3 separate regions of the Homo sapiens genome follow, and all the other regions are linked to region 1. Evidence: fine-mapped expression QTL. A gene starts in region 1. Each other region holds a variant in brackets. All regions are shown on one strand. Distances are from middle to middle.

Region 1 (10,641 bases):
AATTTAACAGAATTTCCCATGCCTTTCTTCTGTTACTAAATTTCAAGCTGGAAGGGGCCTTGGAGGTCAGCTAGTTTCCTCCCTTGTAAATGAGGGGTTAATGAGCCGAGATCACACCATTGCACTCCAGCCTGGGCAACAAGAGCAAAACTCCGACTTAAAACAAAAACAAAAACAAAACAAAAAAATGAAAAGCAAAACAAAAAAAAAACCCCAGCAATTTAGTTCTGGAGGCTGGGAAGTCCAAGATCAAGGTGCCAGCTGATTCCACTCCTGGTGAGGACTCACTTCCTGGATTGCAGGTAGCTGTCTTCCCTTTGTCCTCACATGGCAGAGAGAGAGACAGAGAGCAAGCTCTCTGGTCTCTTCTTCTAAGGGCACTAACCCATCATGAGACAACCACCCTCACGACCTCATCTGAATCTAATTACCTCCCGAAGGCCCCACCTCCTAATACCAACACATGGGGGGTTAGGCTTTAACATTTGCATTTGTGGGACGCATGCATTCAGTCTATAACACCTACATAAGGCCATCAGGAGCCAATACCTATCCCAGGGCCCATACCCCTATAGGCATCACACTGGCTGCCAGCTGGCAAGGCCTTCAGCAGGACTGGGAGGAAAGCTTCCTTTTCCAGCTTCCCATCAAGGCCTCCCCAAAATGGTCACCTTGCCACTACAGTGCCTGGTCAGAGCCTGTGTAGTGTGCTCCCAAGGATTAAGGTTTTGGGAGGGGTAGGATACCACCGCATCAATCCTGCCTGAAATCACACAGCCATTGGCTGGGGCTTGGAAGTCTTCTGCTGGCCCTGAGATTTCCACCATCAAGGTAAGAGTTATCCTAGCACTTGATCATAGTCCTGGAGTCTCGAATGAAAAATGGCTTGGTCCACTGCCCCAGGAATGCCTTCTGCAGGGTTTGGCTGATCAGTTGAGGATTCCTGCCCAGTAGCAGGAGCTTGAATCTTCAAACTGTAGACTGTAAACAAGCACATGTACTCAGAGGATCAGAAGGGACTAGGAAGCAAGAAAGCATCTTGTCCAAAGTCTCAGCAAAGGTGTATTGGCATGACTCTAGCATCTGAATGTCTGTCACACCCCAGGAAAGGGCTCTTGGCAAAGGCCTCCCTGCAAGAAGCTCAGAAGACTTCAGACCCCGGCCCTGTCCCTTCCCAATGGCCCATGAGAAAGCCGACTTTCTTGAATAGGAGCCAGAGTTTTGTGTGTGCCTCTCCAGGACATACACCAGGTTTTGCCTGGGAAATATAAATGGCTTCTGTGGAGGGACATTTTTTTTTCTGTCTTTGTTTTGTTGAAGAGAAATCCAAGACCCAGGAAGGGATGTGAGTTGGGCCAAGAACCAGAGGTTTTAAAACACGAAATGGGAAACTCAGACTTCCAGACAGTGGCTCTGGAGCCTGGGTCTGTAATTCAAACACTAAGAAGTATGTGGAATAGTGATTGGTTCTCCAAGAAGAAGAATGGAGGAGAGGGATGGAGGAGTGGGGAGGGCAGAGAGAAAAATGGGGCTCAAAAGCCTGAGCACCATGAGGGGCTGAGATCACAGAGAGCAGAGGAAGGGAGGCACCCAACAGAGGAGGAAAGAGGTGAGGAAGAATGGCTGGGGGCAGATGCTCAACCCCCTGGTAATCAAGAAAATGCAAATGAGATGCTACCACCATCCCACAAAGATGGGCAAAAATTGAGATGGGCGGCAATGCCAAGTGCTAGTGAGAGCACAGAGCAATGGGAGCACTCATGACAGCTGGCAGGTGAGATGCAAATGGGCACAAACCCTTGGGAAAGTGGTCTGGCTTTACCTGATAAAGCTAAAAATGCACAAACCTAATGTTCAGCAATTCCACTCCTAGGAACCCACCCTTGAGAAAGTCTTGCACAGGTGATCCAGGAAAGGAGCTCGAGAGTGTCCAGAGCAGTGCCATGGATAATGGCCAAAATCTGGAAAAAATCTAAATGTCCAACAGGAAAATGAAGGACTAAATCATGGTGCACTCACAACATAGAATATTACAGAGCAATGAAACAAACGACTGCCCCACTCAACACTATGGACGATGCCACAGCGTAATGTTTAGTGAAAGAAGACAGACCCAAGAGACCACACAGGGTATGCCCCTACTTCTATAAAGTTCAAAGAAAGACAAAATTACATCGAGTGTTTAGAAATGCATACATAGGCCCAGCGTGGTGGCTCACACCTGTGATCCCAGCACTTTGGGAGGCCAAGGCAGGCATATCACCTGAGCCAGGAATTCGAGACCAGGCTGAGCAACATGGAAAAAACCCATCTCTACAAAAAAAAAAAAAAAAAAAAAAAAAAAATATATATATATATATATATATTTATATATACACACACACAAAGATTAGCCGGGCATGGTGGTGTGCACCTGTACACCCAGCTACTTGGGAAGCTGAGGTGGGAGGAACACTTGAGCCTAGGAGGCAGAGGTTGCAGTGAGCTGAGATCATGCCACTGTACTCCCACCTGGGGGACAGAGTGAAACCTTGTCTCAAAAAATGAAGCGAAATTAAATTAAAATAAAAATGCAGACATAGATGGAAAACTTGATAGAAAATCAAGGAAAAATTAGTAGCATGATTAACCCTAAGGGGAAGGGAGGCAGCTGTGATAAGGACAGGGCCCACGGGGGTGGGTTCTGGGAGGCGGCCAGTTTTTCTGTTTCTTGGCCTGGGAGGTGGCTACATGGACATTCACTTTATAATTATTCCTCACACTGCATGCATTTTATGCATTCTTCTGTCTGCAATAATAAACTTCCAGCCTCTGTGCTAGTGAGCAGAGTCTGGTGCCTCTGAGGTAGCCGTGGGGTCAATGGGAGGATGCGCTGCCCTCAGAGGCAGGTCTCTCCAGAGCTCAGGTTGACATCTCCCCATCCCTTGCCCCCAACTACCTCCCCCTTTCTTCAAATCTGTTAGTCTCAGGCTCCATGGGCTGAAACTGAGCCAGTCCTGGGAGCCAGCCTGTGGCTAGAAGGCTGCAGGGCCGTCTCCTGCAGGGCATTGGTGAGAAGAGCGAGGGACTGCCCAGTTCAGGATAGAAGCGATTATGGGCCCCTCACACCACTTCCTGGGGCCAGGCACCAATGCCCTGTGGCCTGCCTCAGTGATGCTCCGACAGAGTACGGGCCCCAGTCCCTCCCCTCCCAGCGCTCCTGAGGAAATGGCAGCCCTCTGAGGTCCCCCGCCAGCACCAGCCCTTGTCCTGGAGAAGTGACTGGCAAAACCTTAGTTTCAGGAGACTGAAATGTGCTCCAGAAAGGAACATGCCAATCTCCACCTAACAACAGCATCAACAACAAACAGTAACTTCCATTCTGCGCATGGGCTAACGTGCCAGCTGCCCTCCTGACTGTCTCCATGCTCACAGACAGCACCAAGGGGGCTTTTTTTAAACCCTTCTTCACAGATGAGAAACCTGAGGCTCAGAGAGGCAAAGAGCTCAAGTCCACACAGCCAGAAAGAGGGGGGGTTAGAATTCAAACCCAGAGCAGAGCCCCTCCAAGGCCTATGCTCTCACGGGGTGCCCCAGCACCCCTAAGCACGGGTGCCATCCCCACAGCATGCCCCCACCCTTCCCGGCACCATCGCCCACAGCACCCCAGGGAGCTGTTGCCCTGTGAAGGGTTCACCCTGAGGTAGAGAGCACTGCCCACAGAGGCCATGACTCGGGGAAGGGGTCAGCCCAGGCCAGCCCCTCCTTCCTTGGCTCCCAGTGCTCAGAGAACAGTGAGTCCAACCTCCTCCCCTAGAGCTGCCACATGAAGGCCCAGAAAGGGTCAGAGACATCCCCACGGTCACACAGCCTCCAAGTCACAGCAGGATGCTTTTTCTTTCTCTGTGTGTTTGTGCTTGCTCCAGTTCAGGTCTTTATCCCTCCCTCCAGGGACTTCAGGGGTCCTGACCCAGCCTCCCATTCACCACCTACAATAGATGGCTTGGTGGACCTATCGTCTCTCACCTCTCTGTCCAGAGGCCAAACCCCTGTCACTGGAGGAATCCAGGGTCCTTGGTCTCTATAGAGACGTTGATGCTCATGGGCCCAGGGAGGCAAGGACGGGGCAGCCCCAGGCCTGGCCCACCCTGGCCCCCACCAGCCACACAGTCCTGGGCCGCAGCCTCCTGTCTGAGCAGGGGCTGGGTGGCCACGAGCTCCACTGCTGGCGTGCTCCAGCTCTCAGCAAAGCTCTCCTTGAATAAACAAGGCTGCATAGCAACCACTCGCTGAAGGAGCCCATAGCTCCCTGCGCGGGGGAGAGACCGAGCCGAGAGATTTTCCCCTTGGTCTCATTGCCTCTGTGGCTCACCGGAGCACAGGCACTACCAAGTGGCCGACCTGTCCTCTAGGGTCATGGACACCACAGAAAGAGAGAGCACTGGGCCCCCCTGCCTGGTGACTGCAGCCAGGAAGTGCATAGCTGGCTTGGTGCAGGGATGTTGTTGGTAGAACTCCTGGTTTTGCTCACATGGCCTCTGGGCTCAATCTGCTTCTGTTTACTAACTCTCCTAGAGGCAGAAAGACAGAGTGAGCATCCAGGCCTTGGCAGCAGGCAGCTGGGTTTGAATCCTGATCCTGCTACTTCCAGCTGTGTGCCCTCTGGTCAGAACTTTACCTTTCTTGACCTCAGTTTCCTCATCTATAAAATGGGTACACCAATAGTACTGACTTGATAGGGTTGCTGTAAGGATTTCAAAGGTGCATGTAACAGCTTGTAATTTTGTCTAGCACTTGGTAGGCTCTCCATCACTTCCCCAGAAATCCTTGCAGAGCAGAAAGCCTGTGGCCTTCGTCCCAACCAGATTTCTCCACCTTAACTTTTGGAAAATGTGAATCCTAGCAGCCCATGTGTACTTTCTCACTGAACCCAGGCTCTTGGGCGGAAATCCCAGGCTGGCATCCTCTCTCTGGAATGACAGCCAGTCCCACTCCTCATGCTACCCCCTTCTAGCCCTCACCATCCAGGGGGCACACAGTGGAAGCCAAGGACTCAATTTGTATGCAGGCTTGCAAACAGCCACTCGCCCAAAGATACTATGAATTTTCCCAGGCAGCTCCTCCCCATATTCTGTACAAAGGAATCAGCAGGTGTGTGGAACACACAGGGATGGCTGGTGGGAGGCCAACTACACCCCACGAGGCCTGGGCTGCTGAAATGCTTGCACACGGGGTAGCTCCTTCCTGGGACTCTCTCCTCTTCCCTGAGATGGCCAGGGAGGGCAGGCCTTGGGAGTAGCTGCTGTCATTTACCAAGATCCAGGAGGGAGCAAGGAGGGCCAGCCAATTATGACTGAGAACAAGGTCCCTCTGGGGCAGGTGCTGGCCCCAAGCCAGAGGTCACAGCTGACAAGGCGAACGGAACTCCTGAACTCCCTGTAGCAGAGGCCCAGAAAGGAGACTCTTCCTCCAAACCAGGAACAGTGGCTGTGCGGATTCCCCTTGGGAGACAGGTATGAAGATGCCCAGGTGGGGAAAGAGAGGCCTGGCAAGTTAAGCCCTTGCCCCAAGCCACACAGCTTGTGAGTGAGAGCGACTCAACCATGGGAACCCAGGGCGGGGACGTGACAAGGCAGGTTTTGGTGTCCCTCAGCTCTGGCAGGGAGATGGTGTGTGTGCAGCTCCCCCAAAGCCCATCTGCATGTCGCTGCTTGAGTCGGAGCTTCTAGAACACAGATCCGATGGCCGTGCCCTGCTGGACACCCCTCATGGCCCCTGCTGTCCTTGGTGTAAGGGCCAGACTTAGCACCATGGCTGCCAAGCCCCTCTAATCAGGCCCCACTGCATCCTCCTTCAGCTCCTGGGCTCTCCACACTCTGCCTCCACTGGATGGCCGAGCATTATGTGTTCCCAAGGTGGGCTGGCCATGCTCTGTGCCAAATGCTAGAGACACAGGAGGCAGCACAGCCTGCCCTCAGGAGCTGAGTGATGGAGAGAGGCCCCAGCAGGTAACCCCCTGCTTGTTCCTGTGTTACCTGCAATAAGGGAGGATGGATAACACAGCACAGCCCTTAAGAACCAGGGCTCTGAAGCCCCTGGATTCCAGACTGGATTCTGATCCCAGCAATGACATCTTAGGCAAGAAACAAACTCTCTGAGTCTTGGTTCTTTCATATGCCTAGCAGGAAGACTGCAGATCCTCCCTCCCTGGGGTGGCTCCAGTGACCCTCAGTGTGCCCGCCAGGCACAGAGCACGCACTCACCCTCACTGTGACCATGGACAGAGAGCGAATCCCAGGGGCAGTGAGGTGTGACATCCACATGAAATCCCCGAGGTAAGGAGCAGGCCAGTCGAGGAGCATGGGTGGAAACCGCTGAGGCAAACACAACCTGAGCCCCGGGCCTCTGGGGGAGCCAGGAGCTGCCTGGAAGGATTGGGGCACTCCAGGTGGGGAGGGCAGCCAGGCTGCCACCTGGAAGCTCTCTGGAACTCCCCTGAAGAGACCTCAGAAAGAAAGGGACACGAATCCAGCCCTCAGTCATTTGTTGTGACTTCTTTTCTCATTCTAAAAAAATATTTTCATACTTAATTTTGTTTTCTTTCTTAAAGAAGCCCCCAAATTGTTTAAGCCTCGAGTCTCACAAAGCCTGTATCGACCCCTGGTGGAAGGGCGGCCAGACCCTCGGAAGAGGGTCAACAGCTATGAAGGAAACCAGATGTCACCTGTCTCCTCCAGTGCCCAGTGTTCCCAGTCATTGCCCCGACTCTCCTGGGTGTGCTCACACTGGCCTGCTCCCACCCCCAGAACCGATGAACAAATACTTGATGTGAATGAATTAAACTGACTCACAATACAGAATCACAAGCTGGGAAGAGGGCTCTTGAAAGTACCAAATAAGTAGCCCCCTCCACATCCACAGGGGATAGCCCCCATCTACCCCAGAAATCTACTCAAGATTTCAGAAACCAACATTCTATAACTTTCCATGCTGATGGATTTGGTCAGTGGAAGACTACTAAATTCTGATCCTGTTCCCTCAGTAAAAATGTCACCAAGAGTCCTCTTGGCCCTTGTTGATTTGTAAAGTGAACAAAGCTGTTTCTATGTCTAGCAACAAGAAGGACTAGATACCCTGAACACACTTCCCATTGCAAATGACCTGAGCATCCTATATCCAAATAGTCTCCTGAACACGTAGCTGGGCTATTAGCAGGGACTTCACTGAGGGGTCTTCTCCCCTTGCTCTGGGATGTAGCTGTCATGCTCCTCTCCTCTCCTGGCCTTTGTTCATGCTGTTCCCTCCACCCCAAAAGCCTTTCCCATATCCCTTCCTACCCCTTACTTATACCCATCTCCGGCCGGGCACGGTGGCTCACGCCTGTCATCCCAGCACTTTAGGAGGCCAAAGCAGGCAGATCACCTGAGGCCAGGGGTTCGAGACCAGCCTGGGCAACATGGTAAAACCCCGTCTCTACCAAAAATACAAAAATTAGCTGGGCATGGTGGCGCATGCCTGTAATCTCAGCTACTCAGGAGGCTGAGACAGGAGAATTGCTTGAGCCCAGGAGGCAGAAGTTGCAATGAGTCGAGATTGTGCCACTGCACTCCAGCCTGGATGACAGAATGAGACTCCATCTCAAAACAAAAACAACCAAAAAAAAAACACTTTATACCTATCTCCCTTGGCCAATTCCCACCCACGTGCTCCCAAGGGGAGTCCTTACTGACTCTCTAGAAAAGAGGTGCCTCTCATCTGCCTTTCTAGGGCCAGCACTTCCCTATCACAGCACCACTCATCCGCTGACTGTAACTGCCCGCCCCTCTCCTGGCCCACCAGCCAGCCACACAGACCTAGACTGTGAGCTCCTTGGGGGCAGGATTCATGCCTTATATCTCTGGAACCAGCGCCAGCCAGGTTCCACATGGGTGTTGAGAGAGCGACACCAACCTGACTGCACGTGGGGAGAGGAAGTGGCTGGCGGCATAAGAAGCCCCCGCCCCTGCAACATTCACCGCTTCTTCCAGGACCAGACCTGAGATCCAAGCTGCAGACCAGAGTCTCAGCCCCATACATTGTATGGCAGGGAACAGGTAGGGGGAGTTCTGACCCCCTGGGCTGGTGTTGCCCCCTTATAAACCAGGACCATCCCAGGCCTAGCTGGAGGTCAGATCCCAGGGAGCATGGGGAGCAAGGGCCCCTGGTAGGGACCCTAGGAGGTGGTATGCTCAGGCGCCTCCCCCATCTCTGTCTCAGGTACCCATCCCTCAGGATAAGGTGCCCCCAGGCTAAAGATGGTTAGCATAGGGCATGGCCAAGGGTTCCAGGCAAGTGGACAGAGAGTTGGTTCCAGTCCTGACTTTGTCACCATTACTGTGTGCCCTCCAACAAGTCCCTGCCCTCCTTGGGCTTCCAAACTGTCATTTGTGATCAGACACTGGGTGACCTCCTGGTCCCTTAGAGCCCTGATGCCCTGTGTCCTGGGCCCTGGCCCAGGCTGAGGAGAAAGGCTGGAAGCCCCCCATCCCTTCACAGGCCACGCCCCCCCAGGTAGAAAAGCGGATAATGGAGGCAAGCTGGCACTGCCTCCAGACTGACACTGTGCTGGCTTATCTCCCAAAATACCACTGCCCCACCCCCTCCAAGGCCAGCCCCAGCCTGGAGAGCCTGAAAGGCCCTGTCAGTACCACAGGCTGGGTGGGGGTGCTCAGACACTGCCAAGGACACAGAACAGGCCCCTCCCAACCAGCACCTGCCACTGGGCTGACGTGTTCCCTGGGAAGTTCCTGGGAAACTCTAGAATAATGTATGCAACCTAAGCACAGGATCAGAGAGAGGACTAGGCCAAGCCCCTCTTATCGCAGATGATGGAGTCACACAGGAATTCAGTGGTAATGACAGGATGGGGACTAACGCCTTCTGGTTATGCTGCTTCTGGCCCCAGCTGCCCTTCAGGGCTTCTCCCAACAGAAGCCAACCCCTCATCTCACATGGGGTGTGCCTCTCCCTCCTTTCTCCCCATTCCACAAAAGGACGTGTCAGAGAAGAGCAGCTCCCTGCCCCACAGCCACAGGAAAGCTCGAGAGATGGAGGGCAGGGGGAGGGGAGGAGTTAATAGGTGAGTAAATAACTCCAGAAGCTAATGGCAAAAAAGAATTTGATGGGTTTTTGTTGTTGTTGTTGTTGTTGTTTTTGAGATGGAGTCTCACTCTGTCGCCCAGGCTGGAGTGCAGTGGTGTGATCTCAGCTCACTGCAAGCTCCGCCTTCCAGGTTCACGCCATTCTCCTGCCTCAGCCTCCTGAGTAGCTGGGACTACAGGCACCCGCCACCACGTCCGGCTAATTATTTTGTATTTTTAGTAGAGACGGGGTTTCACCATGTTAGCCAGGATGGTCTCGATCTCCTGACCTCGTGATCCATCCACCTCGGCCTCCCAAAGTGCTGGGATTACAGGCGTGAGCCGCCACACCTGGCCCAGAATTTGATATGTTTTTATAAGAACATGCAAAGAAATAGGAAAATGTGTAAAATGCTCCTAAACTTCCACTTTGTAAAAATTAAGCATATGTTTCACATACTTATAATATGTACATATTCCTGTACATATATTGTCATTTTTTTAAAAAGCCTCCACCAGCAGGGCCCAGTGGGGAGCTGAAATTCCATCCCATCATCAGCAATGAGGAAAGGCATAGGGGTGTGAGGCAATATCCTGCTTTTGCTGAGATGGTATCAGCAAGGCCCAGTGGTGAAGCGAACATCCAATCCCACCTAGATCTGTGTGCTAGACCTAAACAGGATAAATGCCCTGCAAAAAAAGAAGACAGAAGAGGACCTAGAATCTCACAACACAATACCCAAAATGTCTAGGAGACAACTGAAAACCACTCATTATACCAAGAACAGGTAAAATAACTTGAATGAGAAGAGGCAATCAATGATGCAGCGCCCAGATGACACAGATTTGAGGATTCTCTAACAAGGATTTCTAAATAGTCATCATAAAAATGCTTCAATTTGCAATTATGAACGTGCTTAAAACACATTAAAAAATAAAATGTCTCGGCCGGGCGCAGTGGCTCGCACACTGGCTCACACCTGTAATCCCAGCACTTTGGGAGGCCGAGGCGGGCAGATCACGAGGTCAGGAGATCGAGACCATCCTGGCAAACACAGTGAAACCCCGTCTCTACTAAAAACACAAAAACATAGCCGGGCGTGGTGGCGGGCACCTGTAGTCCCAACTACTCAGGAGGCTGAGGCAGGAGAATGGCATGAACCTGGGAGGTGGAGCTTGCAGTGAGCCAAGATCGCACCACTGCACTCCAGCCTGGGTGACAGAGTGAGACTCTGTCTCAAAAAATAATAACAATAAAAATTAAAAAAATAAAACGTCTCAGCAAAGAAACACAAGACACAAAGAAAAACAACTGGAAGTTTTAAAACTAAAAAATACATAATCTGTCACAGGAGTAAAGGGAAAAAAAAAATTTAAGAAAGAAAAATACAATATAAATAACAGCATTAATATGACTATGATAGAGGAAAAAAATCAGTGAACTTGAACATAAAACCATAGAAATTACTCGATAGCAACCAACAGAAAAAATATAGACTGAAAAGAAATGAACAAGGCCGGGCACAGTGGCTCATGGCTGTAA
Region 2 (10,641 bases), 82 kb before region 1:
GACGGTCAGGTGCAGTGGCTCACGCCAGTAATCCCAGCACTTTGGGAGGCTGAGGTGGGTGAATCACCTGAGGTCAGGAGTTTCAGACCAGCCTGGCCACCATGGTAAAACCCCGTCTCTACTAAAAATACAAAAATTAGCAGGGTATGGTGGCACGCACCTGTAGTCCCAGCTACTCGGGAGGCTGAGGCACAAGAATTGCTTGAACCTGGGAAGTGGCAGTTACAGTGAGCCAAGATCGTGCCATTGCACTCCAGCTTGAGTGACAGAGTGAGACCTCATCTAGAGAAAAATGTAAAAAAAGAGAGAGAGGGGAGGGTTCATAAACAGGACGCTTCCCAAGGTCACGTGGAAGGTTGTATAATGACTCGCAACCATTCCCCCGCCTCTTATGACACCACACAGCTGTAAGCCTTCCCACACTGTGAGCATGTGATGGGAAAGTGCTCATTCCCCAGCACCCCTGCCCCCAGGTATAAAGTTGGCATCTGGGAGCAGAAGTGCACCTGCTGTAAGCATATCAAGCCTTTGCCACCCTGTGAATGGCAAGCATTTTTTTCTGCCATCCTGCATATGGGGAAACACCACCAGGGACTAGGCATGATTTCCCCAAGATCATGCAACAAGCCAGTGCCAGGAAGCCAGAGGCTGCTCAGAACGGGCTGTTTCCCCAAGCACGGACATGCAGGGACACAACCACACCCATGATGTCTTGCAGCTGAGGCAGGCCTGCAAGCTGAACCAGCCTGCCCTTCCAGTCACTCCGTGCAGGCAGAAGCCCCCTTTTTAGAAAAATGGATGATGTTTATATCTCCTGATCTTGGGGACCTGGGGATTGGGAACAGCCCTTGGAGGCTTACCCAGGAAGCTCAATTACTGAGCTTCAACTGTTATTTCTGTGCCAAATCCCCCAGCAGAGCTACCAGCCTCTAGGTCTCAGGATGTTGGGGCACTGTGTGCATTTGAGAAGGCTCCAGACTTTCTCCCCTCAATGTGGTGTTTTCAGTCTTCACCTGGCCTGGACTGCCCAGGCATGCACGCTCTGCCGCCCTTACTCAGTCTCCTGGATCAGATACCCAGTGGGCCCTGGGCCCTGAACTCCTGTAGGGACCTGTGATGGGGCCGGAGGCCAACACAGATGAGATTGGCTCCATGGCACAGTGAGTTGGGTTCCTTCCTGTCTGACAACCATAGCTGTGTGCTGGTCTTAGCGCCCACCCCACTTACCCACGACTCCTACCACCCACCTCGATCTTGTTCAGATCCAAATGCAAACATATTCTCCACTGGTTTGGCATCCCATGTAAGCCTGACCTCACAGAGCTGAGCACATTGTGCAATAAAGCTCACAGATCAGGCAAGAATGTGCTGTCGCGAGCAGAGAGAAGGGCCTTCTTGCCTGTGCATGTGGGGAACTAGGGTCCTGTCCTGGCCCTGAGGCAACTGATTGAGAGCTCTGACCAAGGCCTCATAGTCCCTGTAGTAGGATAGTGTGGTCCCTAGAGTCCTTTCCTAGTGTGACTTCCTGTTCATTCAACAATGCAGCTCCATAGTGTCACTACCCACCTATGGGGCACTTATGCTATTAATACAATAGTATGCCAAGGGTCTTCCATGCTTCACCCAGTATTGATACCTATGAGTGCCTGATGAGCTGGGTACTATTATTACTTCCTTTTTTAATTTTTATTTTTATTTTAAGACAGAGTTTCACTCTTGTTGCCCAGACTGGAGTGCTATGGCGCAATCTCGGCTCACTGCAACCTCTGCCTCCCGGGTTCAAGCGATTCTCCTGTCTCAGCCTCCTGAGTAGCTGGGATTACAGGTGTCCACCACTATGCCCGGCTAATTTTTGCTATTTTTAGTAGAGATGGGGTTTCACCATGTTAGCCAAGCTGGTCTCAAACTCCTGACCCCAGGTGATCCGCCCTCCTAGGACTCTCAAAGTGCTGGGATTACAGGTGTGAGCCAGCACGCCCGGCCTATTACTTCCATTTTATAAGGAAGGAAGCAAAGATTCAGAGGGGTGAACTAATAAGCCAGAGAGTCAGGACTTGAAACCAGGCAGTCAGCCTCTAATTCCCACTCTGGGAAGCCTCAGGCTGTCCTGCCAGCAGACGGCCAGTGTGGTTTCCTGGGCAGGTCCCCTGCTAGCCAAAGCTTGCTCCATGCTCAGGGCCACCCTCCATTCTGCACTCCCAAGGCACTCCCAAATCCCACTCAGGCTCCTGTGGGGGTCCTCTCCCCATGCAAAGCCCCTCTTAGCTGTGTCACTTGGCAGCTGAGAATCTCTGTTCCAGCCAAATGCGGGGCCTGCGCTGGGCCAAGCTGTTTGCATTTTTCTCTATTCGGGAAAAGGGTGGCAGCTGAGCGAAGCCGGTTTTTTCCTTGTTGTTGTTGTTGTCTTTAATTCAACTGGCTAAGCCTAACCCTTATTAAACAAGAAGTGCTTTAAAAACAAAAACAAAATAAAGGCCCAGCTCCCAGAGCTTCTGAGGGAGTTGCTTTGTTCAGAGCAGCAGGATCCAGGGCTTCAGGGGAAAGAACAGGACTCAGCCAGTCACCCCAGCTCCCACAGCGCCCACCCCTGCAGGCACACGGCAATGGCGGCACCAGCCTGGCAAGCCTGGTACAGAGGGCAGAGGCCTGGCACCCAGGGTGAACAGGCTTGTGGGAGAGGGCTGGGGAGGGACAGAAAGGGAGAATGGAGGACAGGGGTGGGGCAGGAAGGAGCAGCAGAGGAGGAGTGTCTGACCTGCACTTGTCCTTTCTCTCGGCAGCAGCAGCGAGGAGAGCCCTAAGAAGGACACAGAGCCGGGGAGCAGCCCCTGTTCCCCTGAACTGCAGGGCGGCACCAGGCGTGCATCTCCCCCAGAGTTCTGTGTGCTGGGCCACGGGCTGCAACCGGAGCCTCGGACCGGCCACATCCAGGACAAATCCCAGCCAGAGGCGCAGCCCCAGCAAGAGGAGGTGTCCTGACAGGCTGACGAGGGGGCCACACTCACGCAGTCACCCCAGAAGGCCAAGTGTGACAGCCAAGTGTCCAGCCTGACCCAGAGATGATGGGCAAACCAAACTCCTACTGAGGTGTCCTGGAAAGGCCTGGAAGGTGCACTGCCCAGTGGGTCTGCTGAATTTTAAACAATCGCCGTTTTCAGTCCCAGATCTTGCTCTGCCTTGGGGTTCAAAGGTTAACCAGAACTTTTAGACCCCACAATGACAGTATTTAATGCTTCAAGTGCTGGCCTTAATTTGGGGTGGGGTGGGGGGTGGAGAATGTATAGTTGCATGCTTGATAGGGTTTTAACTGGGTTCATTCCTTGAGATCACTTAAGCCTCACAACAGTGAATGAAGCACATAGCATTCTTCAGTTTTGCGCATATGAAAACCGAAGGTGTGGGGAGAGGCCCCCTCAAGTGTCTGGCTGAAGGTCATACAGCTAAGAAGAGAATAGAGCAAAATTTTGCACAGATGAGTCTGGTGTTAGAATCTCTCTGCTCTTTTTATTACATTCCATTGCCCGTAACTATTGCGTCACTCCACCTGCCTAAAGCAGACATGGGTGCGCAAATGGTCGCAAAGCTTCTTTGTTGTAAGGTTAAGTAGCGGCACAGCATTGACAAAGTCCCTATTGAGAGCTTTGTTTAGAAGTGCATGGCTCCCAAAATGAGAAGGCTGAGTGAGCCAGGATTAAAACACACAGCCCCACCCGTCCTCTGTCCTCTCCTCCTTCCCAAGCTCAGTTTCAATGCTGTAAACTTAAAGCTGACAGCTCACAATACCAGCCACGCTGCCTCTCGGCCTAAGCATGTAGCAAATGCTCTCACTGCCCTACGCATTACATGCTTCTCGACGGAGTAGGGTAAACCAAGCCTCCCAAACAAGGCAGCCCATTCTCCACATGCCGTGGGTGCTGGAGCTCAGAAGATAGCGTGGGTGAGGCATACGTACTCACACGCCGATCTCCCCTCGGAGGCTTCTTGGCCAACTTTATTCCCAGGTCATCTTGCAGAACTTCTGCTGGAGTCGAAATCAAAGTGAAAAACAGTTGTTCATGCCAAAAACCTGCTTCTGCCAATGAGCTAGATATTTGCTGCAGATCTTGGAATGCTTCCACTGGAGGCTGTGGTGTGCGTTCTATTTAGAAAAGATTTTGCAGTAATTGAGTGATTCAATGCCGGCTCAATGGGTTGGCAAAAGACAAGAATTCTTACCCACTGGGGTACAGCAAAGGGACGATCCTCCAGATCTGCTGCAAAGCTGATTTTTAAAGTTTGGGGTAATTATAGACCTCAAACCCATTCTTGCTGGGACTGTGGGCTCAAAAACTTGTTAAACTGGGTCCCTA[G/A]GGACTATAGCAACCTCCCCCAGAGAGAGGCTATGACTCTGAGTAAATGAATCCCACCTTGACTTGTCCAATTATTATTCAAAGGCACCCAAAGAACAGCTGATTAAACTACCAAGAGGGGCCACAACCCACCCCTCTGCTGGAAAGGGACACACCCAGCTGTCTGCTCGCATTTGCTCCTGTTGCCGCCCTCATCTCAGAGAAGTGCTCAGGCAGTGCCCAGGCCAGCCGATTCTAGAGCCAAGCCACACCCACTGCTGGGTGGACACTTAGGAGCTGCCTGGACTGCAGGCAACGCAGGGAAGTCCAGCCACCCAGGCAGGGCAGGGGCCAAGGTAAGCACGTGAGGATGGACCAGGTTCAGCAAACTTGCCCGACAGAGATCTGGGCATTCTCCCTAAATGGTTGGGCAGACCAACCATTGGGTCACCATGGGGTGAGCCTTAGGTAAGCTGGGCACTGAGCTGAGTGAGCAGGAGACACACAGTGTGAGCGGCCTTTGAGGTCTAGCTCACAAGTAAGTGGCTTCAGGTGGGACTGCTCAGAAAGTGGGCCCTGCCTGGGCTCAGATTTAGGGGCAGGATTCCTGGAGGTCCGAGGAAACGAAGCTGTTCCCCAGCTGCAGGGAGACTGGAGTGGGACACAGTGGGTGAAACTGGGGTACCATGAGGGGTGGAACCCCAGGAATTATACACATTTTCATTACTGGAACCGGGATATGAAGTGGAGCCACTCCAGCAGTGAGGGGAAGCAAGGCTGAGTCTCCAGCCCAGGCCTCCTTCCGTAAAGGGCCTCATCTTAAAAGTCCAGGGCTGGGTAGAAAGTGGAAAGGGTGGCCGAGTGCCCCCTGCTGTGGCCATGCAAGCTAGCGGCAGCAGGGAGCCAGGCAGATTATTCCACCACAGAAGGGGTCAGTATCATGGAGAACACGCAGGAAGGGTCCGGAATGAACAACGGTGCTTTCCGTGAGCATGCATGGCAGGAGGCTGTCTGAGACTAGAGGTTGTCCCTCGCCAGGCTAGGCTGGCAAGCAGCAGGAAGTGCCCACCCACCATATTGCAGGCAGCAGACGAAGGGGTACAGGGCACCCGGGATCCTGCCATCAGCTGTGGAGATGCCCATGATGCCTCCTTGTCCCTCTGGAGGACCTCCACGTTTGCTTGGGGCCAACGTGTGCCAGGACAGGGCGAGGCTCCTGCCATAGGTCCCCACACACGATGTCATAAAAGCCCCCAGCTGCCACCAGACCCAGGCAGCCGGGACAGTGAGCTGGTGACACCATTGTGTTGCCCAGTAACCTTAGGCTACTGGAATTCCAAGTCAGCTTCCCCCACTCCAGGGAAGATGGGGAGGGGTTGCCAAGGTGCTGGGGGCTGGGGGTCAATTAGGTCAAAGGTGAAGCAGTGCTGAGCCGACATAGGAGCAGGCGGGTCAAAGATGTGTTTTTGGCTACCATACCAACTACCAGACTTAGCTCAAATTACATGTGAATTAGACTTTGTACAAAAGGAATTAAATCCACAATGGAACAGTTTTGTGGCATCTGGTCAGTTTTGCCTCCTAGAGACCAGGTCTTCCACAAACTTGAGTCTGCCTTGGAGCACGCATTGCTGGTGGCAGGAGGGGCAAACCCAGCTGTACAGCTTCTCAGACAAGGGCTGCTCACGCCCACCATCTCCCTTCTACCCAAGAATGGTATCCTTGCTGGGCCAAATCCACTTCCTTTGCCCAAGGGGGAAGGGAGGACAGTTTTTCTTTGTTCTGCTTTTTGTTTTAATAAAAATTATTAAGCCAATGAACCCAACTCATTGAAGACCCATGAGTCTATACTTTTTCTTCATAGAGTTAGAAACCAAGGACTGTCCGGGATGCAGAGAAGGAGGAACCCACCACAGATCAATCTAAGGGGTACATGTCATACCCATCTTCTCACTCGGGCCAGCTCCACTCTGGAGGAGCACAGCTTTCATCTTCCCGACCATGGAGACCCCAGAGCTGTGGAGAGGGAGGTACTGAGCCCAGCCCTTTACCCAACACTTTAGTGACACTGTAAACAGTTCCACCCCAGGGAAAAAAACAGAATTTTCTGCTCCCATCAAAAGGATTCATGGAGAAAAAAAAAAAAAGTAAACATCATATTCTGGCAGAACAGTGATAGCTTTTTGCAAGTATAAATACAATCTTCAAAATGAAATATAACCTCCCTCCGTGGCTGGGGTCTGAGCTGCTGTTTACTTTAAGCCGTATCTATTCTCCTTCCTCACATCGTATGCCCAGTTCAGAGCCTAAAATAATCCATGTTGTAGGAAACGCAGGGCAGACAGACCAAAGAGACTTTTCTTTCATTGTGAAGGGCCTAGGATTGACAAGACTTGCCTCATAAACCTTACAATGTGAATGAAAGGGATTTTGAGAAATATATTCTTTTTCTGAAATAAACCAGTGTTTTGCATGTATCAGGGGAGCCGCTGCAGTGAATTATAAGTGCTGACGTGTTTGTCAATTGATCGTCTGGCTGACGGCTTACAGGCTGCTAAAGCACCCACTCTATCTTTCAAAGGAAATCTTTTCAAAGGTAATATATTTTTAAGTAGCCCTACATCAAAGATTCAGTTGAACTGCCATAAAGTACATGTGTTCTGAGCCTGTATTAACAGAACATGTTATACTGCACCATCGTCTACTCCCCCTGCCTACCTGAAGTTTAACTAAAGCTCCATCAATCCATCCAGACGTTTTTATGAAATGTAATTAAAAATGCATCACACAAGAAGAGGAGCAAACAGTTAATTCACTCAGCACTCTAATTCAATTTTAGGAAGGACCCTGGACACTGCAGGCTTGATCGCACTCCTGGACTTCACAAAGTAACTTTGTGAATGGTCGGTGGGCCCTGCATCAGGTGGCTCTAGGATTCCACTGATCTAGTCACCCGCTTCTGAACGCTGTCACTGCAGACAGCCTTGAAGTCTAGCACACGAGGCAGCAATCGGTTTTGGCTGGAGTGATAGCACTGGCGGGGCTCAGTTAATGCCCATAGATAAAGCTGACTGGCCTAAATTGGAGGAAGAAGAAAAAGAGGAGGAAGAGAGCAGGAGGGGAAAGAAACAAGGGGTATGGTAAATGGGCCACGCATTCTCAGGAGCCAGAGGGTATCACGCTCCTGAGAGTTGGAATTAGAACACCAGAGCCTGAGTCATGACACCTCCATCCCCTGGCTCTGTGACCTGGCATCTCTGAGCCCGTGTCTTCATCTGCAAAGCAGTGATAATAATGTCAGCCTATTTATCCTGCCATCTGCACAACAGGGGCAAACCTGTCTTTTCTAAGGCATCTTTTTGAGCCACCTCGGGGAACGGAACTCATAATCCTGGCCATTTTGGTCTTTAGTGTTCATCTCTGCTGCCTCCGCACTTTAAGATCCCGATTGAGAAAAGAAGCCAATATCATTTCCCCCTCATTCCTGGGCTGCGCTTTGATCTTTGGAGAAACTTAAAAACAGCTGTCAAACTCAGCAAGAATTGACTTCCTTCTTTGAAGGTTTTCATGTCTTTCAAAGTGAAGAGAAAAGACTTTACAATATTTGCTTGCAATTGCAAGTACATATGTCAAATATACCACATGGAAAAAAACAAATTAAGCCTCTGAATCTCTCATCTTTCCCATGTTGAGTCATGAGGCTTGTCAGTCAGTCAGATAGATGACTGGCAATTACTCTGAACACTGCTAAACAGCAGGCTTTGCACACAGTGTGGGATGAGGCTCCAGTTAATAATTCTACCTTTCTTTGTATGTAACACTCTACTTTTTCAAAATGCAATCATGTACATTGTTTCATTAAATCTTTAGAGGAAAAAAGACGCTATGAGATGGACAAAGCAAGTGTTTTTTCAATACCTTTTACACATGAAAAAAAGATCTCACTCCAAAGATACATTGCCAGTGAGGGCAGAGCAGGCCTCTTACCCTGGCCAGCCTTCCTCCTGATACCTGCTGAAAGCAAGATCTAGATTATTCCATAGAGGCAGTACTGGAAGGAGACAGCATACCTTTCTATGGAAGAAATTCTCCATTTTCTCCAACATTTACAAATAGGAAATTATTTTTCTTTTTAAAGATACAGGGTCTCACTCAATGTCGCCCAGGCTGGAGTGAAGTGACACAATCATAGCTCACTGTAGCTCAGTGCAGCCTCGAACTCCTAAGCTCAAGTGATCCTCCCACCTCAGTCTCCTGATTAACTGGCACTGCAGGCATGCACCACCATTCCCAGCTACGATTTTTTATTTTTTTGTAGAGATGGGGTCTTGCTCTGTTGCCCAGACTGGTCTCAAACTCCTAGACTCAAGCAATCCTCCCACCTCAGCCTCCCAAAGTGCTGGGTTTACGGGTGTGAGCTGCCACACCTAGCCCAGGACATTACTTTTCATATCTAATCAAAGTTCAGCTGAAATTCTAGCCATTCCTCAAACTAGCTTGGATGAAAACTCAAAACAATGTTTCCAAGAGTTTTTAAAATAATTCCCTCTATGAACCTCAACCACTCCCATCATTTTCCACACACACACACACACACACACACACACACACACACACACACACACAACTGCTGCTAGCATTAAGAGAAAAAGAAAAGTCTTTTCCAAAAATCTTTGCTTCTCATTGCCATGAACCCTGAAGTGGGCTTCCAGATGAAAATTGGCAGGAGCAGACGTGGCCTCCTTCTTGAGACAGCTCTTTATTGCCAGTGCCCCACAGCGGCAAAAACCAGTGGATGAGACAGAAAATAATATAGACCCTGGGAAACAAATTGCCTTCATGAAAATTATTTATCTAGCAATTTTTTTTCCTCCTTTGGAAGGGGACAGTATTGGCTATGTTTACAAAACCTGGTGACATTTTAGAGCGATTATTTAGTTAACGGCTTCTGACTTCAGCTGCAGAAGTGCCGCATCACTTTAAGGATGTAAAAATTCTCAAGGAGAACCCAAGGTGATGTTAATAACAGCTGTCAACTCACAGCGAGGTAATTATAAAGATGTGATTAAAATAAAGCAAAGCCTTCAAATGTTACAGCCAGCTTCACTGAAACACCAGGGGACGGAATATGGCGAAACCAGCACGCCCCCTGAATAAACCCCAGTAATCATAAGGACCAAACCTGAGCCCCCAAGAGGTCCCTGACTCAGAAACACCCACCAGGGAGCATCTGTGCACACAGTGATGCTGCCGTGCTGTCTGGAACCCGGCTGGGAGCAGGCAGTTAGGACGCTGCTTCCCAGGCTTCCTGATCCTCAGAATCAGCTGCTTGATAATTTGCAGATTCCCAGGCCTTCCCCCCAGTAACAGATCTACAGCTGAGACTAAGAGTCTGAGTTTTTAAAAAGCACTTGTTCCCGTCTCTCTCTCCCCGTTCTCCTCCCGCAAGCAATTCTTTTCATCAACCACATTTGGTAAAGACTGATTTAGGGATGCTGACTCCCAGGTGTGGGCTAGCCTGGGAACCTAATAACCACTGAAAGCTTTGAGATTGTGACAGAGGTTCTCAACTTTGAGTGATCAAGGCTCTGATTCGGTAGGTCTGCAGTACAACCCAGGGATCTGTACTTTAACAAGCACCGTGGGTGATACTGTAACAAGCAAGCCACAGTCCACACTTCGTGCCTACAGCGTCCCCAGGCCAACAGCTTCCAATCAGGGCATACCTGAAGTCTCCCCTTTTTCCACTATGAAGCTGCAGCATTACCTCTGCTTGCATATGAGTCTCTGCCAAAACTCAGGTCGTCATGGCAGGCTCCCTTGCTATAGCAAGCTCTGAATAGGCTACACTTTGCTCATGTAGCCTTCATTTGTGTCCACAAATCCCGTCCCCACCAGAGGCCAAGTGTTCACAGCATGTCCTAATGATCAGAGCTGACCAAGCAGACCCTCTCTGCCCTGAAGCTTTTGGGAGCAAAACTCTGGGACCAGACTAACTCCAGAAATCCATGGGGTTTCCGTGGCTTATTTCAAAGGGCTCAAACTGACCCAAGGGGAGGTAAATGTCTTGGAGCCATAAAACATCCTGGAACAGAAAGTCAGGGGCTTTGGAGTCAAACAGGCCTGGACACACACCCAAGTTTCAGCCACTTTCTTGCTGTCTTAGGACCTGACGCCTCAAAGTGTGGTCCCTGCCAGACTCACAGGATTGACCTCACCTGGGAATTGAACACTACAGACTCTCAGGCCCCACCCAGACCTGCTGAAGCAGAATCTGAACTTTACCAAGATTCCCAGGTGATTCCTGTGCACT
Region 3 (10,641 bases), 46 kb before region 1:
TCTTAAATCATATTTCATTCAAACTTAAGACTCCATTAATTGTAAAAGGTGCCCTTACTTTATTTTCCACTAAGGAAAATCAGAAAAATAAAAACTGGTGATTTCCATAGCCTCCAATGACACTGCCCCATGTGTGAGGGCAATCTTTCTATGTGCTATCTCAGAAACAGAAGATAGCATTGCTTGTCGGTATTTTTCTTCCTTAGGTCAGGTAAAGTTCTTAGTGATTGCTTTGCAAAAAATGTGGGACTTGGTCATTCCTTCCACAGTGAGAGTTTGCTTCATTGATATCTAATGGATATCCACTGACGTTGCCATGCCTTTTCTCATATACAATAATTATTCATTTCAATTGCAAATAATAGTGTAATATTTCTAAGAAACTTTAAACAGATTAAACTCAATGATTCTCCAGAGAGCATCCAAAAATCACTTCTGAAAATAAATTTAAAAATTTACAAAGAAAGGCTCATAGTGTAGTTCCTACAATGGAAAATTTAATTCAGAAAATAATACTCTGAGCAACACTGACTAAGTTTGTGAAGGTGCAGATAGTATAACTACATCATAAACTGGGCACAGTGGTGCACACCTATTGTCTCAGCTATTTGGGAGGCTGAGTCAGGAGGATTACATGAGCCCAGGAGTTCAAGGCTGTAGTGTGCAATGATCACACCTGTGAATAGCCACTGCACTCCAACCTGGGCAACATAGCAAGACCCCATCTCTTAAAACTACAAAAACACCTATGTCCTAATCACTGCCTAGCCCAACTGAAGCCCAACAGCAACTGTGAAATGCCTGTCATTGTAAGATACATGCCAATTTTAAAAATATTAAAACCAGGGAAGGATGTGTGTCTTGAAATCAATGAAGTATGGGAGTCCCCATTGTGCCTCTTGGGTGGCTCAGTAAATAACAGTCACTTTTAATGATAGAGAGAACACAGAGAGGCAGACTTGGAGAGGAGGCAATGAGTTCATTTAGGGACACTCAGCACTGCAGATGGCAGTAGGACATCAGATGGTGGGTCCCATGGAGGCTTTAGAAATGGGGACTGATGCTCGAAGAAGGGTCTGGAGTGGAGGGCAAGAATTGAGAAGCCTCCAACTTTGCTGGTGGCTGGAGCCACCAGAAGTAAAAGCCAGGAGAGGGAGATGAGGACTAAAGACACCTTGGCAGCACCTACACTCAGGTGGCAGTCAGGGGCAGAATGGTCACAGAGGGACAAGGAGAATCCCCGGAGTACAGTGCCATGGAAACCAGGAAGGACAGAGTTCTAGGAAGGAAAAGGAAATGTAGTCACCATCATCTAGTGTAAGGGATGGGTCAGAATGGAGAGGAGTAGCAGATCTGGAGAGACTTTAGACCTTGATTTCCATCCCTCTAACAACCATTTAAAACCAACAAGCAAACCAAAACCTTCTACGTCCTTTTTTTTTTCGTTGCATGGCAGAGTTACACAACACTTTATTATATAGTAGATGCTCTAGTAGATGCTACACAAAGAATAGCTGTTTATAGACATTTCATCCCATTCTTCCAGTCCCCCTAAACTCACTCTTCAAAGTATTTGCTCCAAGTTTAATGGCTATGTGATTTGTGATTTTTTTATTTATTTATTTTTTTGAGACAGGGTCTCACCCTGTTGCCCAGGCGGGAGTGTAATGGCCCTATTTCAGCTCACCGCAACCAGTGCCTCCTGGCCTCAAGCGATCCTCTTATCTCAGCCTCTCAAGTAGCTGGGACCACAGGCACGTGCTACCATGCCCGGCTAATATTTTGGTATTTTTTGTAGAGACAGGATTTCACTGTGTTGCCCAGGCTGATCTCAAACTCCTGGGCTTAAGAGATCCACCTGCCTTGGGTTCCCAAAGTGCTGGAATTACAGATGTGAGCCACTGCACCCAGCCAGGCAATGTTTTGTTTGCCTGTTTTTGTTTTAATTTTTTATTTCCATAGGTCATTGGGGAACAGGTGGTGGTTGGTTCCATGAGTAAGTTCTTTAGTAGTGATTCGTGAGATTTTGGTGCACCCATCACCCGAGCAGTATACATTGAACCCTATTTGCAGCCTTTCATCCCTCACCCCCTTGCCACTAGTTCCTCCTGAGTCCCTAAAGTCCATTATGTCATTCTTTTTTTTTTTTTAGACAGAGCCTTGTTCTGTCGCCCAGGCTGGAGTGCAGTGGCGCGATCTCGGTTCACTGCAAGCTCCGCCTCCCGGGTTCACGCCATTCTCCTGCCTCAGCCTCCTGAGTAGCTGGGACTACAGGCACCCGCCACCACACCTGGCTAATTTTTTGTATTTTTAGTAGAGACGGGGTTTCACCGTATTAGCCAGGATGGTCTCGATCTCCTGACCTTGTGATCTGCCAGCCTCGGCCTCCCAAAGTGCTGGGATTACAGGCGTGAGCCACCGCACCCGGCCCATTATGTCATTCTTATGCCCTTGCATCCTCATAGCTTAGCTCCCACTTATGAGTGACAACATACGATGTTTGGTTTTCCATTCCTGAGTTATTTCACTTAGAGTAATAGTCTCCAATCTCATCCAGGTCACTGCAAATGCCATTAATTCATTCCTATTTATGACTAAGTATTCCAGTGTGTGTGTGTGTGTGTGTGTGTGTGTGTGTGTATACACACATACATACATACATATCACAGTTTCTTTAGCCACTCGTTGATTGATGATGAGGCATTTGGGCTGTTTTCGCATTTTTGCAGCTGAGAATTGTGCTGCTATAAACATGCGTGAACAAGTATCTTTTTCATATGATGATACCCAATGGATACCCAGTAGTGGGATTGCAGGATCGAATGGTAGTTCTACCTTTACTTCTTTAAGGAATCTCCACACTGTTTTCCACAGTGGCTGTGCTAGTTTGCATTCCCACCAGCAGTGTAGAAGTGTTCCCTTTCACCACATCCACGCCAACATCTATTATTTTTTGGTTTTTTGATTATGGCCATTCTTGCAGGAGTAAGCAAAACCTTCCACTTCTCCACTGATATTCCTCATTTCAGCAAATGGCACTATTATTCACCATTGTTCAGGGTAAAAACTTAAGAGCATCTTCAGTTCGTCTTTGAAACCCTTACCACCTGCATCCTGTTGGCTCTGCCATCCTGTTGGCTGTTGGCCGAAGCCACCCACCACTCTCCAGTCTGAGCCTCCAGCCCCTCTTGCCTGGACTGTGGGGCAGCCATCATCTGCTGTTCCTCCTGCCTTTCTCTCTCACTACCAGTCCTGCGGCAGCCAGAGAGGCTTTTTTTTTTAATTATAAAGGCTAACACGCATGTAAAGAAACACTCAAACTCATTATTAATAAGCAGGGGGTCAAAGCACTCTAAAACAATGATGAGCTATCATTTTTACCCATTAGATGGATAAAAATTAGAAATCTAGAAATTGCCACATGCTGAGAGGCTGTGCAGGAGGGAGGCAGATGTGGACCCCAGGCAGGGCGGGGCTGCTGGAGCACACACATGCATCTGACCCACGGTCCTGCTCCTGGGCACGTCCGAGGAGGTGCCATGCAGCACAGTTTGCAGCAGGGGAGAATGGGAGGAACCGCAGGCACTACATCCCTCAGGGAGCACCCTCAGACGTGGGTACCCTACGAGAATGTCTGGCCTGGAGCTCACCCATCCAGGGTGGGCATGGCCTCTGGAGCCCTGACAGGTGCCACATGGTCTCCAGTTGGGGCGAGGATGGAGTGAGGGGTGGAGACCTACACACTCATCCAAATGGATGTGGTAGTAATAAGCCCTGAACTGAGGAGTGTGAGGAACTGGGCTCCAGCCCTAGCTTTTGAAGACAGTCAACCAGATCCTCTCGCTCTCCTGCTTAAAATCCTCCAACACCTCCTCATACTCCCACTAAGAAAACACTCCAATGACTTCCAATCACACACCATCCAAAATCCCAACTCCTGACCTTGGCCTAGGAGAACGTCTCTGACCTGGGCCTGCTGCCCACCCTCACCCCCACCCCTCACTCACTGTGCTCCACCAGGCTGGCCGTCCCCACCCTTGGACACCAAGCTTGTTCCCATCCAGTGGCCTCTGTGACATTTGCTTTGCCTGATCCTCAAAGAGCTGGCTCCGTGTAGCCGTTCAGCTCTCAACTCAAATGTCACTCTTAAAAAAGGTTCTCTGAACCCTCAGTCTAAAGCAGCCCCCCCACCAACTCCATTGCATTGCAGCCTTTACCTCCTGGGCTCAAGAGATCCTCCCACCTCAGCCCCTCAGTAGCTGGGACTACAAGTGTGCAACACCACCCCTAGCATTTTTTTTTTTTTTAAGTAGAGACAGGATCTTACTATGTTGCCCAGTCTCAACTCCTGGCCTCAAGCAATCCTCCTGCCTTGGCCTCCCAAAGTGCTGGGATTACAGGTATGAACAACCACATCCGGCCTATTTTTTCTTTATATCCCTGATATGTATCTAAAATTACCATAATTATTTATTTATTATCTGTCTCCCTCGACTAGGAAGTAAGCTCCAATACAATAGGGACTTCATTTTTCTTATTCACTGCTGTGTCCTTAATAAGAAAAAGAGTGATCATTAAATATCTCCAGAAAAAAAGGCCTGAATGTTCTTACAGAGAATGGTGCTGCGGTGAGGTAGAAACAAGAGCAACACTCAATGGGTAAGAGGGGAAATGGAAGACCAGAAAGTGGAGGCAGGGAGTAAGGACCCCTCCCTGAATGGGCTTGGCTTGATGGAAGGGATGGGACAAGAGCTGAAAGGAAAGGACATAGCTTCCGCCTACCTGCCTGTCCCTCTGCAGGATCCCAGGGAAGCTGAAGCTGTGTGCCCCAGGCCCCTCAGGGCTGGCTGGTTGGTTGCCTTCTCTGCCCCCAGGCCCCTGGCCCTGCCCTACCTGGTGTCCTGGTTGGAGTCCTGTGCCAGCCTCACCAGGTTGTGCACCAACATGTCTGTGCTGTCTCTGGTGCCCGAGAGAAGCTTCTCAGCGCCGATCTGCTCCAGCACAGCTGAGAGGTGCTCAGCCGCGTATTTCCGGATCAAGGGGTTCCGGTGGCTGAAAGGAAATCATGGCCCAGGGGTCAGTCTCAGGATAGTGGTGTGGGAGTCCCCAGGCTGGCAAACATGGATCTACCATTGCAGACCCATGCTTCATGCCAGCCAGGGGCTCCAAAAATACCTGTCCCCATGTGAGCTGAGGGGAATCTTTGAGGAAAGAGCACTCACTTTCTACGAACAGGGTGACAGCAACAACGGGAGAGGGAAGGAAAGTGACATGAAGCTACACGAGGTTCC[C/G]CAATACACCGTATGCATACCGTTCTTGGGAGCTTCCTGCACACACATCCTTCCTTTTGTCTAAGTACTCTTCTCCATCTTCCCTCCACCTAGAAAAGTCCTACCTAACCAGTGTCTCTTCTTCCTTCTTTCCCCAGCCCCACAGGCAGAATTAGACATCCCACCCACTGCCCAAGGTAGCGCTGTCTTTGTCCCCGGGGAAGTACAGTTGCACCCTTAGGGCCCCCATCAGGCTGCCAGCTCCCTGTGGGCGGGGACCAGGTTATCTGTCTCCCTTGACTAGGAAGTAACTCCAAAACAACAGGGGCTTCATTTTTCTTTTTCACTGCTGTATCCATAATGACGAAAAGAGTGATCATTAAGTATCTCCAGAAAAAAAAGGCCTGAATGTACAGAGAACAGTACTGGGGTGAGGCAGAAACAAGAGCAACACTCGATGGGCAGAGGGGAAATGGAAGGCAAGAAAGTGGAGGCAGGGAGTAAGGACTCCTTGCTGAATGGGCTTGGCTTGACGGAAGGGATGGGACTAGAGCTGAAGGACATAGCTTTCATCCACCTGCCTGTCCCTCTGCAGAATCCCAGGGAAGCTGAGCTGCATGTTCCAGGCCCCTCGGGGCTGGCTGGTTGCCTTCTCCGCCCCAGGCCCCTGGTGCTTCCCTACCTAGTGTCCTGGCTGGAGTCCTGATTCCCTCTCTGTGGCAACCCCACTGCCCTGCTGTGCCTGACACATCCCTGGTGCTTGGCAGGAGCTTAATGCATGTTTGCTGAACTGAACTGAGACAGGAGGGAGAAGAGGGATTCATGGGTGAGTTGGTGACCATAACAAGTGGAACCTGAGCTCTATAAGAGAAACCTGTCAGAATGGCACCTCTTTCTAAGGGCCTCTGTGTCCACACTCCATCAGGAAGCACTGACCCTTTTGTCCCCTAGAGTCTCACCCCAGTGGAACACAGTGGGGGACATCAGAACTCTCCCTACTCAGCATGGTCCATGGACCAGCAGCACTGACATCTGAACCAGAATCTGCATTTCAGCAAGATCCCAGCGGACTCAGATGCACAAGCCATGACCCTGGTTCTTGTTGACAGTGATCAATTGCCTGTCCCTCCATGCCAGCACCTTTTATCCATTATCTCACATCTACCTCATTAGCTACTATTATCATCACTATTCTGCAGGTGAGGAAGCTGAGCCAAAGGGAGGCATCCAGAAAAAAAAAATACAATTCATTTCTCCTAAGTTAATTATAGACACAGTAAGCACTCAGTGAATGTCAGGAATGGGCAGGCACCTTTCTAAGTGCGCTTTCGTGAGTCAATTCAATTACCTCTCATAACAACCTCATGAGGTAGACACCATTATTATCTCCATTTTACAGATGAGTCAACTGAGACACAGAGAAGTGAAGTGACAATCAGGATGTGAACCCAGGCAATGTGGCTGGGCAGGATCTCACCCTTTGCAGTATGCTATGGTGCAATTACTAAAGGTCTCCCAGCTGGTCCAACAGGCCCCTGGGGCTACTGAGAAACCTCACGCATCAGTGTAATGATCCACTTATGGGGTGGAGAGGCCTTTTGCTGTGCGGGAGAAGCAGCTTGGGAAATGCTTTTGGTTTTGCTTTTAGTGTGGGTGTTTAATGACAGGGAAAACAAATCTGCAGAAAGGCTCCAACAGGAACCCAATACCTTCCCCTCCCCAGGAGCAGGTCCAGTGGGGCAAGCTGGAGAATGAAATTTTGCGACTTTCTCTTCTCACTGGCCCACATTTCATCAGAAAGCAACACTGCTCCTGGGGGTGACAGGAGCTCCAGGGCCCATGCTCAGGCTGCCTCTGCAGCCCTGTCTCCCGGGGCGCTCCCACAGCCACGGTGTGCTCCCCAGCCTTGGAGTGCAACGGCCCCCTCCTCTTCCAGCCAGAGGTCCCTGCATTCCCCCGGCCTGGCCGATGAAAGGTTGGGAGAGAAGCCGGATGCCCGGCACAGGGAAGCAGGGGTCTTCCTCCCCCAGCTAAGTGGGAAGCACCTGCTGTGAAGTCTGAGATGGGCCCCTTCTTCACTCAGAACCTCTGACCCATCACCCTGTCCTCTAGCATCTCAAGGGACCCCCTGCAGCCTCACTTGCCTGCTTCCCTCCCTCCCTCCCTGCACCCTTCCCTCCTTCTTTCACATCCCAGGGCCTCTCCCCTTGCCTTACCTTCCCTGACTTCCCCGCCCCTCAGACAACAGGCAGCCACATACTAGACACCCGCCGAGGTGAGGACCACCAGGGAGCGGGCAAGGGTCACATTCTCCACCATAGCCCTCAGAGACTGGCCGGCTGCTCTCTGGATGAACTCGTTGGTGTCCGCCATCTTCTGCAGCAAGCAGCGGGCGATCTCCTCGGCCTCCTGGTCCATATTCTTCTTCAAGGCCTGGAAGAGGTCTCCCAAGGTGCTGATGGCCAGGTGAGACACCTTGGACCGCAGGTTGGTGACCTTGGAGAGAGGAGAGAGGCCCTCCAGGGTGCTGGACCCTGCCAAGGGCTCTGGGACGCATGGAAAATGGGCCCTGCACCACCCTCTTCCTCCACCCCCACCCTTCCCCTGACCTAGGCCTTGCCACGCTGGAAACAAAAACCCTGCAGCCACTCTGAGCAAAACTGTCCCATTTTGTTATCATCTCAATTATTAATCCCATCATTATCATGACCATAGGAAATGTGTACACTCTGTCTTCAAAGCACTTTTACAAAGAATGTCTGATTTGATCTTTGCAACTACCAAGTGAGAAATAGGTACCATGAGAAGCACAGTAGTGCTGACTGAGGCTCTAATTAACCTGGGAGAATGTAACTGTATTTTTTCTGGATGCCTCACTTTGCAGAGGAAACAGAGACCCCAGGCCACATGCAGGAAGGCAGATGCTCCCCACACAGCCCAGGCCCCTGTGTTAACAAAACAGCGTCCTCCGTATTCATCCCCACCCCACCCCCACTGGAGCAGCCCACTCCCAAGGGCAGGGCACAGCCTCCACATGAGAACAAATGTAGCCTCCTGCCTCTCTGGACCCAGCTAGACCAAGCCACAGAGCCATGAAAGAAACGCTTTGGGAAATACTACCACTGCCCTGGAGTTGGGGATCTGGCCCTGGACGCTCCATCCCTCCTTAGGCATTTTGAGTACAGAGGACCATGCAGGCCGACACATGGGCATGTGGGATTCTAATTGTTTCCATTCTCAAAGATTACAAATAAGGAAACCCTAGGCCTCAGTTTTCCAATCTGAGAAATGGGTGGCTACCTCCTACCTCAGTGGCTGAAGGCTGAGAAATAAGCAGGGATCCCCATGTCCCTGAAGCCACAGCCCCTCCACAGCTGCTAGCGGACTGCATCCAGCAGCTGCAGTGGGGCCAAATGCACAGCACACAGGCTGGGGGGCCTCACCTCCCCAGTCACCACCAAGCACACGTCGTGCAGCTTCCCGGTGAGGACCTCTGAGTGACAGGCTGCCAAGCGCTGGATGCTCACCAGACCCTTCTCCTTCATCTGCCTGAGAAGCAAGGCCAGGCCCTGTTGCAGAAGGGTGGAGAGGGAGGAGCCCCACCCCTCTGCAGACTAGGGGCCCCACATCACACACCATCACGGTCCACCGTCACCCGCAGCAGGGTGCCATTCCATGGCCTCAGAGCAGGGTTTCCCGGGGTAACACCCTGGCCTGGAATCCTAACCACTCAGTAAAAGCCAGTTTTATGTGGCCTCTGGCCAGCCCTCAGCTCTGACAGTGCTGTATGGAAGCCCACCCCCCTCCAGGACCTGTCTGGGTCCTTGACACAAAGCCAACACCTTCAATAAAAGGCACTTGAACAGGGAGGACTGAAGGCAGGGAGGGCTTCTCACAAATGTTCTGGAGGCCGAGGCATTGCTTTGCTCATGACTACGGTCCTGCATCCCCACAGTGGGAGGAGCGCTCGGAGCAGATTCAATTTCATTCAGAGAAATAAAGGGCTGCGGCCTTCCTGGGCCCCATGGTGTGGAATCAAATGCATCCTTGCCATGCCTGGCTTTGGTACACCACAGAGCCATGCATAGGCTGCTTGGAGGGTCGCAGGGCACACACATAAAGCCAGGAACACCACACACTCATGCACACACGCACATAAACACACATATCTATATGCATGCACAGTCCTCCCTCCAAACTGGCTTTTATGCTCCATGGTGCTGGAACCCCAGAGTGGGAGAGGAGGGAAGTTGAGGGGCAGAAGCTATTCTGCAACAGCCCCTGCTTCCGGCCAGAACACAGCACGTGGTGGAAGCATCTCCTCACCAGTCACTGCTGTTGAGGCACTGGAGTGCATCCCTCAGCCCCAGCTCCGGGTTCGAGAAAGGCCTCAACTCCTTACAGGCTCTAAGATCCATCTCCTCCTCTTCTTCCCATTCAGGAGACCCCAACGTGAGCACCGCAGGTAATGAGTTAGCTGCATTCACAAGAAAGAAACAGCAGGCTTCACGCAGCAGGACAGGCAAGAGCCCGAGTGGCCGCTCCTGCCACCGCTCACCATGGGAGGCCGTGCCACCACCCTGAGCCCACCTAACAGGGAGGGTGTACAAGTGGAAGTGCCTGGTGAGGCTAAGAACCCAGCGCCTGGGCCTCCCTCCCCAGGAGCCATGAAGACCTCCTAACTCTACCTTTGGCTGACTTTTCCCCTTCCTGCCCTTGCCAATGCGATTCTTATAAACAGATTTGTGATAAGCCACATGATGTCATGGGACTAAACCCCCCAGTCAGGGGGACACCTCCAAACCTGCCCCATCTGTGGTGGGGTGGGGCCCCCTGAGCCATCAATGAATGATCTCCCTACTCACTTTGGTGGCGGTCTAACCTCATTCCCAACCAGAGGCCTGTATGGTCAGCGCCTCTTCCTTCCCTCTTGCTATCCAGCCTTTTGTGAGGTTGCCCACAAGCAGGGAAGAGTCCAAGAGCAGATGGCTAGAGGAAGACAATGTAGCTAACTGGCACCCACACAGTCCAGATGCAGCCACACACACAGGGACCCACAACAAACAGGTTGTCGTGTTTTCTAGGCTCTCCTTCCCAGGAGACAGATGCTGAAATCATAAACTCCTAGGACAGGAAGGAGTCTTACAGGGCCTCTGTCTAGCCAAATGCCCTGATCACACAGTTGAGGTCCCAGAGGCCCAGAGAGGGTGGGGGACCCTCCACAGCCCCTCGGCTCCTCTGTCAGCACAGCCAGGACAAGAAGATCCCCCTCCCAGTCCAGAGCTCTCACTACCACATCTTCCTTCCTGGCGAGTTTTCTCCCGAGCTTCACCTCCACCAGGATGATTTTCACCACAGTACATCTGGAGGT

Alleles and levels. Positions count from the first base shown, and alleles are read on the strand shown. Sizes are in standard deviations (SD) of each study's normalised expression. Not every link is listed here.
In carriers of allele G in region 2, the expression in cerebellar hemisphere of the gene that starts at base 4,246 in region 1 tends to be higher than with A alone (small effect, 0.26 SD a copy in GTEx).

Evidence for each region. PIP is the estimated chance that this variant, and not a neighbour inherited with it, causes the effect. A credible set is the group of variants that fine-mapping cannot tell apart.
Region 2: its variant is the best candidate, but not a certain one, in a credible set for the expression of TOGARAM2 in cerebellar hemisphere (GTEx, PIP 0.55).
Region 3: its variant is the best candidate, but not a certain one, in a credible set for the expression of TOGARAM2 in whole blood (INTERVAL, PIP 0.87).

Annotation. Positions count from the first base shown.
Region 1 is chr2:28,974,903-28,985,543 of GRCh38, reverse strand. TOGARAM2 (TOG array regulator of axonemal microtubules 2) reads right to left here and starts at 4,246. Exons shown (of 20, transcript NM_199280.4): 1 at 4,006-4,246.
Region 2 is chr2:29,057,207-29,067,847 of GRCh38, reverse strand. PCARE (photoreceptor cilium actin regulator) reads left to right here. Exons shown (of 2, transcript NM_001029883.3): 2 at 2,781-6,153. The coding sequence ends at 2,979. Among named protein-coding and RNA genes, the nearest start is that of PCARE, 12 kb to the left of the region's middle. RefSeq lists enhancers at 235-735, 2,037-2,719, 4,063-4,977. The variant G/A (reference allele first, on the strand shown) is at 4,350.
Region 3 is chr2:29,021,264-29,031,904 of GRCh38, reverse strand. TOGARAM2 (TOG array regulator of axonemal microtubules 2) reads right to left here. Exons shown (of 20, transcript NM_199280.4): 11 at 9,597-9,747; 12 at 8,714-8,819; 13 at 7,531-7,766; 14 at 4,894-5,052. Among named protein-coding and RNA genes, the nearest start is that of TOGARAM2, 45 kb to the right of the region's middle. RefSeq lists an enhancer at 7,677-8,178. The variant C/G (reference allele first, on the strand shown) is at 5,292.